Linked DNA regions of Homo sapiens. The protein of the gene in region 2 purifies or fractionates together with the protein of the main gene of each other region. This does not show direct contact. Each region holds a gene or a part of one and is shown on either strand. Other genes may lie near its edges.

Region 1 (4,636 bases), on a different chromosome or scaffold from region 2:
CTCCATTCCCCCAACCTCTGAATTTATGTAATATCTAAAAACTGTTTTAAGAGAACATGTACACCTGACTGGTACTTTTTTTTTTTTTTTTTTTTTGGAGACAGGGTCTCACTCTGTCACCAGCCCAGACTGGAATGCAGTGGTGATCTCTGCTCAGTAAAACCTCCACCTCCCAGGTTCGAGCGATTCTCCTGCCTCAGCCTACTGAGTTGCTGAGACTACAAGCGCACGCCAACATGCCCAGCTAATTTTTGTATTTTGTGGTAGAGACGGAGTTTCACCATGTTGGCCAGGCTGGTCTCGAACTCCTGACCTCAAGTGATCTGCCCGCCTCAGCCTCCGAAAATCCTCAGATTACAGGCATGAACTACTGCATCTGGCCTGAATGGTACTATTATATTCATAGTCTCACCAATACAATTATTAAATAGCTATTATTCAAGTAATACATCTTTTCTAATACAAAACATTGAGAAAATTACAAGGTTTGAGGACCGATAAATAATATTTAACAATAATGATGATGTTAATTAAATACCAATTCAGTAAAACTTACATGTGGGCCCTAAATGTGTAGATAGGCTCTACATCTAAAGAGGCACTCCTAAAAGAGGGGGAAAAAGGGTAGGGGAAGAGAAGGCAATTAAATAACTATGAATCACTGGTTGATATTAAATAGTCATTAGATCAAATGTGTGCATTAAAGACATGCAACAATAATGAGGAATAATTACTTATATTAGCAAAATTGGAAGAAATACACCAGGCTAACACTAAAATACTTGCTTTTTGGCAGGAACTGTTTTTTGCAGGTTCCAAAGTTTCAGGGTATGGTCCTCAGAAGCAGTAACCAGCACAGGTTCTACAGGATGAAAAGCTAATGCCCGTACTCCATCAAAATGGCTACGTAGTGTATACTTGGGATTCCATGTCTTTCGAAAGGCATCTTTATTAGCAGGCAACTAAAAGGAAAGAGCACAATATTTAGTGGTAAAAGTAGTAAACTGGAAGGCATGTGGAGTGTTTGTTCGTTTCTTTTTGGTGTGTTTAACACATATATTTAAAACTGTTGGCTAAAATGTCCAGTGGAAATTTAATGTACCTTTAAAACTTTCTAAAAAAACTTTATCATTTAATAATAACTCAGAATAATTTCATTCGCCTTACAAATAGCCTAGGTCAAATGAAGAGTTCCTTAATCTGTTTTTACCTATTAAGCTAAACCCAAAGCTCCCATTAAATGTCAGATGAGAACAAAATAACTACCATTGCTGCAATACTTTACATGAAAAATAATTACATAAGTTATTACAAATATCCAACGGTACAGTATTAACAGTAAAGTTGTCATTTAGAAAACGTATTAGCATGTGAAATTATTAAAGGCAGCAAGTTAAGGTACTTTCTGAAAGTCTGAACTAAAGACCCTTTAAGAATATTTTTATCCCATTTTCATAATTCTTGATATTGACAGAGGTTTATCTTTTTACCTTCACATTTCTCCATCTGTAAAGATAGGCTGTGAAACCACTTCTAAAGCAGTCAAAAGTTTACTGGAATTTAGTCACTTATATACTTAAAAAAATATATTAATGAGAATAATCCAGCCCACCAAAGGCTGTCTCTAAGCATGCTAATGTTAAGTATAAAACGTGGAAAAAAGAAACTCATTATAAAAAGAAAAAAAAATTGCTGAAAAACTGCAATTAACATAAAGATCTAACAAGTATAGTTAACTCTCAATTGAAATATTAATGACTAGAAAAAATTAAATCCAAGACAAGTTTCACCTCTAACACTGGACTCCCCACTCCCCAACCCTTCCATCCACTCCCCAATCCTCTAATGAAGGAGTTAAGTATTCAGGAAATGATGCAAGCTAACTTTAAAATGTTCAGAAACTTTAAAATATTTCCTTAAGAAAATAAAAGTTCAAAAATAAAACATGCTTTTTAAGAAGTACTCTGAAGGCAAATATATGATTCAGGTTATTTTTTTTCTTGTTAACACCAAAATATGGCTTAATTTGAGATAATTGAGAGTTGACTACTCAAGATGTATTTACTGACCAATATATTAATCATCTCAAACTTCTAGTTAATCCACCAAAATACCTAAAAAAAAAATTTAAATACCACAAAGAGAGTAGTTATAAAAGAAAAACATGTCACTTCAAATCAACACATTGACACAAACTTATCTTTTCCATGCACCTTGATATTAATTCTGTTTTATAAGTGATTCCAAAAAATAAGGAGCCTTCTATTAAATCATTAAAAAATTAAAAATAAAACTGCACTTACATCATAACTATAGTCTGCATCATTTGTTACCGTCAAGTCTGCAAGGTCTCCAAGGCCCAGTACACTTAACAAAACATCATCAGAACCCATAATAAATGACTTGCCTCCTCCAGATGGAAACGTTATTGGTTCAGCTATAAAGAACAAAACCGCTTCTTAAATGCTGAAAAATCATACAGTACAAGACAATATTGTGGGGAAAATTTAAGCACTTAACAGTTACAATATTCAGTAATATAATTAATTTTTATTTTCCCACTTCTACTCAAAAAATCCTGTTACTAAGCAGTGTTAAACAAATGTGTTGGAACTGTGGTGTATTAACTGTCCACAAATAAAATGTGCACTAGATATATTATTCTGGGGTGGAAGCTAGGGCACAAAAGCTTTGTCTGTCTAAATCTCTTATCACTTCAGTACAATTATAACTATAGTTTACATGTTAAATAAGAAATAGGACAAATTTTGATTAAATAATGGAGTTAAATATCAGATTTTTGCATTCATGAGGGGAAACCTCTACCATGGACCTCAAGGACCTCAAAGTAGTCATATAGTATTTTTTAAATGTTAATAGGTTGTCACCAAGTCCTTTTGCTTTCTAAAGAAGTACTAGGCATCCTAGTCCCTGATAAAAACTAGTACAAACATTGAAATGTAAATGGTTTACAGTCAGCTATATACTATATCAGTTCACTAGAATGAAGCTTTAATTGTTCAGATTCCTTTAGTAACAGCAATGGTCTAGGAAAAAATTCTTCCACCAACAATGTCAGTTTCCTTTCTATAAAAGGTTAATCCACGTGGTCTTCAGAATGTCTTCCAGCTTTATTTATTTATTTATTTAGAGACACAGTCTTGCTCTGTCGCCCAGGCTGGAGTGCAGTGGTGCGATCTCGGTTCACTGCAACCTCCACCTCCTAGGTTCAAGCAATTCTCCTGTCTCGGTCTCCCAAGTAGCTGGGATTACAGGCGCCCGCCACCACGCCCGGCTAATTTTTCTGTTTTTAGTAGAGATGGGCTTTCACCATGTTGGCCAGGCTGGTCTTGACTCCTGACCTCAAGTGATCCACCTGCCTCGGCCTCCCAAAGTGCTGGGATTACAGGCGTGAGCCACCGCGCCCAGCCTGTCTTCCAGCTTTAAAGCTTTGACTATGACTTTTATTTTAATGTCCCATTCTAGTTACCATGACACTCTAAAATGAAGCAAGTAATCTTGACCACAGAGCTTTAATTTCTGATCAGATTTGCCATTTCAATTTCAAACTAAACTCAGGTTGAGCTTCACTTAGTTTTCTCAACTATATCATGTGCATTATTACAGCTTTTCATGTTAATATTAACAGTTCCAATTATTTAAAATGCGTTTTCCTTTCTATACATACTACTGACCAATTAAACTCTGCCATAATTGAATGACTATTATCTAAATATTTTGTTGTAACAGTCATAGTTTAAGCAACAACCTTCAATATCATTTCAAATATGCTTTGAAAGCAAAATTTTAACATTAAGATAACAAGGGAGAAATACTCAAATCATAATATAAAACTCAATATATCAAAACACACTTAAAATTCATGAGCAAATTTAAAAGGGACACATTATACAAAAAATCAAGCTGATTATCAATTTTAAAAAAATTCCCATGAAAAATGATATAAATATGCTACAGGAAACACAACAGGTGTAATGAAACTTGACAGTCATCACTAAACTACTGGAAATAATTCTGAGAAGACACAATTCATATATATACTATGGCAAAATAAAATTCAACTGTACTTAGAATATCTTGTTATTTTATTATTTTATCCTATCAAAATAAGCTATATAATCTGACTCAAATAGGGCTCTAAAATGCAGCTCTGATTCAGTTACTTGATCTAAAATGAATCTGAAAGCACCTGACAGAAAATATATAGAGATATTAAGTAGTATTTAATCTTTCAATGATGACACTTATTGAATCTGAATAATCTGTAGCATTGATCTTTTGATCTTTTCCTACCAATTATTAGTATGCAGTTATTGGCAATACCAGAAGCAGCTAAAAACTATAAAATCAATAATTTAAACTTATGTTTAAGGATAATTATATAAAAGTCATTATATAATATTTACTCAAAGCATTTTTCTCTAGACAAAGAAATATTTTTACTTTAAGCTCAGGGAATTTGTTTCTAAGAGAAGTCAGAACAAAATGCCACAGTTCCTCCCACTCACAATTATACAAACATTCACTGACACAAATCTCAAAAGCCCAATAAAATAACTTTAACGTAACAAATGATTTTGCAAGACTATCTCTGATCAGCCAGACCAATTTAGGA
Region 2 (5,580 bases):
CTCAACCTATGGTGTGGAGTTGCTGCTTTCTCTTCTGAGAACTCCCCTCCCTCCATCCTAAACTAAACATGCTCAGGACCTTGGAAGGACTCTAACTGCTTCTCTACTAGCTCTTACACTTTTTTCTTTTTCCCTCTTTCTCACTTCCTATTCCTTCTTCCTTTCCTTCTTATTTATCCTAGACTTCTCTGGATTCGAACTTCTTCATCTGGAAAATGAGAAGTCATCTGTCCCAAGCTCCCACAGTTGTTCTGAGTCTCAAGTAGCATAACATAAGTGAGAATGTTTCATTAAGTACACTGTACATTATTAAAGTGAGAGATTAAATTATGTTTATAATCAAGGAGTTGAATTATCTTTTGAAGTCACGCCCCCAGTCCTCTACTTACCACCATGCATTCTTTCAATTCTGTTTGAACTGCAAGCACTGCAGTGACTTCGTCATTTGGACGTACTGACTTGGGAATGTCAAAATTCTTTATTATGATCTTCCGACTGATTGTGGGAAGAGAGAATCAGAACACCAGGATCAGAGACCAATCTTTGAGTGAGGGGGGAGCCATGAACAGGGCAAGGGGCACAGGATGGGCAAGGGAGGGAAATTATGGGGCTTGGATCAATTGTTCAGCATTGGAATCCCCTGGAATTTTCATGTGTTGATTGGATTGGTAACTTCACACAGATTTAATTTTGTTTAATAAAACAACTAGGACACTTTAAGATTCCTTAAAGAACTAAAAGTAGAACTACCATTTGATCCAGCAATCCCACTACTGGGTATCTACCCAGAGGAAAAGAAGTCATTATTTAGAAAAGATACTTGCACATGCATGTTTATAGTAGCACAATTCACAATTGCAAAATCATGGAACCAACCCAAATGCCCATCAATGAACGAGCATCTTCTTCCCTTCCATTGACCAAAAACAAGTTTTTAAAAAGAAAAAATGTACAATACCACATGCCACTTCCTGATAACATCCTACAGGCTCTGGTGGTTGTCTACTGAGTAGGAGGGCTCAAGTCATTATTAGGAGAAAATTTTCTAGCAACAGAATCACATTAAACCAGCAAACCTCTTGATCAGGGAAATGCAAATCAAAACCACAATGCGATACCACCTTACTCCTGCAAGAATGGCCGTAATCAAAAAATCATAAAACAGTAGATGTTGGCGTGGATGCAGTGATCAGGGGACACTTCTATACTGCTGACGGGAATGTAAACTGCTACAACCACTATGTAAAACAGTGTGGAGATTCCTTAAAGAACTAAAAATAGAACCACCATTTGATCCAGCAATCCCACTACTGGGTATCTACCCAGAGGAAAAGAAGTCATTATTCAAAAAAGATACTTGCACACACATGTTTATAGCAGCACAATTCACAATTATAAAACTGTGGAACCAACCCAAATGCCCATCAATCAACGAGTGGATAAAGAAACTGTGGTATATATATATATATATATATATATATATATATATATATATATATATATATGATGGAATACTACTACTCAGCCATAATAAGGAATGAATTAACAGCATTTGCAGTGACCTGTATGAGATTGGAGACTATTATTCTAAGTGAAGTAACTCAGTAATGGAAAACCAAACATCGTATGTTCTCACTGATATGTGGGAGCTAAGCTTTGAGGACTCAAAAGCATAAGAATGATACAATGGACTTTGGGGACTTGCGGGGAAGAGTGGGAGAGGGGTGAGGGCTAAAAGACTACAAATATGGTGCAGTGTATACTGCTCGGGTGATGGGTGCACCAAAATCTCATCACCACTAAAGAACTTACTCATGTAACCAAATACCACTTGTACCCCAGTAACTTATGGAAAAATAAAATAAAATAATAAAAAATTTTAAAAACCCAGCAAACATCTCAATGCACTGGAGGTATTTGTAGGAGCATCTTTGAAGATCCTCCTTCTGTGGTCCCCAGGTAGGGTTTAGGAATTTGTATTTATTTAGCTCCTTAGGAAATTTGGACATATGGCCATGTTTGGGAACTTTAGATACTACTCTACATTTAGACCATACACTGCAATCTGAAAAGGAAAGGAAATGGAGACAAATAAAATGGTCAAATGTTCTTCTTCAGTCAATGAGGACTGGGTTCGGGGCCAGGAGAGTTATTTTCTCGTCCCTAGAAACTCCCGGCTACGGACCTTTGTTATTGTGTGGGACAGAAGGGAATTGAGATTCTTAGCCCACAGTGTCTCACAGCCCCATTTTCTTGGGGCAAAGCATCTTAGAGAGATTCTATTTTTTGGTGCCAACTGCTGTAGTGCCCAGTGCACAGGAAAAGGGTATAAATACCTAAGCAACTTCAAAATCTCTCCCATTTGTATATGAGTTTCAGATTGATAGGATGACCAGCTTAGTTCGAGTGACTAACCATCTCAGTTTACCCAGGACTGAGGTCTTTTCCAGAATGGGTTGTGGAGGTGGCGGGGGAGGGCAGAGTTGCAGTGCTACAACCAGGAAAGTTCTGGGCAAATCAGGATGGATGGTTGATAACCTAATTAGCATAGCTTATTTGAATACCTTGCTGCCCTTCAGGGCTAAGTGGACTGTCATCTGGCGGGAATGGGGTGGGATCTGAACCTGTCCCCATGCAGGGTTTCTTGGGACACTTGCCTCCATTACATTAGCTTGTCAAAACCCTGAACAGTTTCCTCCAGGACAGGATATCTGACCATGCCATAGAGAGTACCTCCAAGATCACAACCCAGAAACCCAGCATTATAAACCCTACTGCTATAGAGAAAACTCCCTAGATTGGGTATCGCTGCTTTCTCCCAGACCCTTGGCTCCATTTTCTACTTTATTTTACTTGCTCCAATTTTTCTGCTTCCTTCACACATGTGTTCTCAATAAGTTGACTTCTGAACCTGTGCTCTCAGGTCCCAGTATACGTGAGAGCAAGAGGTCATCATATTCATCTTCAGACTTCAGGTTAGGAAGAATGTCTAAGCTGCCAGTCTAGCTCAATCTCAGACCACAGGGCAGTGGCCAGGGCCTCTGGTCCTTTAGCCAGTCCTGCCAAAGCTGCCCTAAGCTGCCATTGGAATTCACAGACCTGTTATGCTTCTCTTCTAGGAGGCAAGGTGTGAGAAGGTAAAGTTTACTGAGCAGAAATCTGAACAAAGGTATAAATTATGAACAAGATGTGGATCAGCATGTTAGATGAAGACTAACTACTAATTACAGCCTGTAGGTACATTTGGAGCTTTATTTCCACTGGCAATGCAGAAACACCCAGCAAAAATGTGAGAGGAGTTGGTGGGGCTTCCTAAGAGGACAAGAAGTGGAACCTGGCAGGAGATCCATGGGAGCTCCTGGGACTAGAGTTCTGGGAAGTTGAAAGAAATTCTCAGAAAGAGATATGTAATTTCCAGACTGGGAGAGGAGCCCTCCCTGCAATTTTTTTTGTGGGGAGGAGAAGGGCATGGCTCACGTGTTGTCCTGAGCTTTGTTGGCCCCCAACTGCAGGCAGAGAACCAGGAGCAGGGTGGCAGGGCTGGCCCTGAACAGGAGCTGGAGCAAGCGCATGCTGGAGAAAACAGAAGGCAATGTGTCCCAGAGAAGTGGTGTCCCAGGTGCCCAGCACATTTCTTATATACAGATTGATCAAGGAAGTGCAAGAGCTGCCAGGGAGATCCATGAGGTGAATCACCCATTCACCCTCCCCACTCGTGATCTTTCCTTGTTGACCCAAAGTTTGTTTTTCTAAGAAAAAATCAACACTCAGCTAGAATGTCAGCGTTTGAGAGAGGAGTCAGATTGTTCTTCCTTATTTTTTCAGCATCAGAGTTTCTCAAAATGGCTGGGACCTCAAAAGATACACCAGTTTTTCCCGAGTTTACAGATTCAGTTTTCTTTTCCCTCCTAATTTGCCTGTCTGAAGTGCTATGTGTAGTCTTAGCTTCAGTCACTGCTCCCCTGGTCTCTGAAAGCAGAGAACACAGCTGTGGTGGCAGGTTTCAGACCAGAGACATAGAACATCTTTGCTTGATCAAATTATAGTGAGTTCAAGATGCAATGCTATTCAAAACATTTCTTGGAGGGCTAGGATGATCAGGACTTCCCTAGCAGTCACTACCCATCATGAGGTGGAAGAGCTAGAGAAGACCTGAGCTGCTCTACATGATGGGGAAGTGAGTTCAAGACACTGGGTGATGTAAAGATGTTTATTGTCATTGAGTCCTTCTTAATTTCAGGTGTGGTTGCAATATACTGCAGATGTCCAAGATCCCCAGCTGCCCCACAATCCCCAAGGCAGGGTGATATTTTAATTCTAGACAATTCCTATAAATAGCTGGCACCCCCAAATCAGACTTCTTGGCACCAAAGAGCTGGCTTATTTTCTTATTGACATGGCCACTTTCTTACACTTGTCTCATGCGTAAGCCACACAGGAAGAACCACAGTGGAAAGGATTCCTTCTGTGAGAATGGAGCCCACATTATGTCCAGTAGATACCCAGGTTGTAGAATTCCTCTCCTTGGGATGATGGGGAGACTTGCTCTTGCTGACACTGGCATTGTGTTATTTCTCCTTATGAAATTAAATCTGCTCCTTAACCTATGACTTACAATACTATGGGATTTGTTTCTATCATTTGCATGGCACACAGCTGCCCAGGAAGAGCCTCTCTGGCAACAGAGTGAAAATCAGAGTTCTAGGAGTTACCGCCTCTGTATGTTGCTTTAGCCAGGATTCAGAGCTAAAGTGTAAGTGTGTGCTTCTGCTTTCTGGATGTATCTCTCAAAATTGCTCTGTCTGTTTATTCAGCTCCTGGATCTACCTTCTCTTTTCTTTGAATTGGACACCATTCATGTCATTGCTCACTCAGAACTTCAGCTGTTCTCATGATCACATGCTTTCTTCCCTGTTTATGTCCTATCCACTCAAGAACACTGCTTGTGAGGGTCACAATGACCTTCCTTTGTAAGCCTTTTCCCACAATTAAATTGTCTTTACACCTGGTCCTTCTCACTTGCATAATTTCCATTTGAAGCACATCCTAGCTACACTGACCAAGGCAGGCATAAGGCAGAAGAATCTAGGAAGTGTCTGTGTGGGAAAATGCAGGAAAAGTTCTTTGCTTGGCTCTTTGAAGGCATAGCCCTGTCCTTGAGGATGCAACTCCAGCACTCCCAAAAGGCAGTGTCCAGAGGAAGGCAGATGACGATGGGTTAAGAGCATCTATTGAAGGTAATGAGGCTGTTCTTCTGTGAGCTAGCAGGAAACTGCAATACCTACAATGTACAGGACAATCTTTTTTTTTTGAGACAGAATCTCACTCATCCAGGCTGGAGTGCAGTGGCATGATCTCAGCTCACTGCAGCCTCCACCTCCCGGGTTCAGGAAATTCTCATGCCTCAGCCACCCGAGTAGTGGGGATTATAGGCAGGTGCCACCATACCCGGCTAATTTTTGTATTTTTGGTAGAGATGGGGTTTCACCATGTTGGCCAAGCTGATCTTACATTCCTGACCTCAAGTGATCCACCTGCCTCGGCCTCCCAAATTGCTGGGATTACAGGTGTGAGCCACTG

The links. Proteins that work in one complex are often made in the same cells at the same time.
Region 1: the proteins of PIP (region 2) and STRN3 purify together in Homo sapiens (co-immunoprecipitation; 2 studies listed by BioGRID and IntAct, with this or other methods). This does not show direct contact.

Annotation. Positions count from the first base shown.
Region 1 is NC_000014.9:30,911,221-30,915,856, forward strand, and holds part of STRN3 (striatin-3), read right to left. Parts: intron 2,438-4,636; coding exon 2,304-2,437; intron 963-2,303; coding exon 787-962; intron 605-786; coding exon 557-604; intron 1-556. UniProt on the Homo sapiens protein: Calmodulin-binding scaffolding protein which is the center of the striatin-interacting phosphatase and kinase (STRIPAK) complexes.
Region 2 is NC_000007.14:143,130,109-143,135,688, reverse strand, and holds the start of PIP (prolactin-inducible protein precursor), read right to left. Parts: upstream 3,613-5,580; 5' UTR 3,573-3,612; coding exon 3,478-3,572; intron 496-3,477; coding exon 390-495; intron 1-389.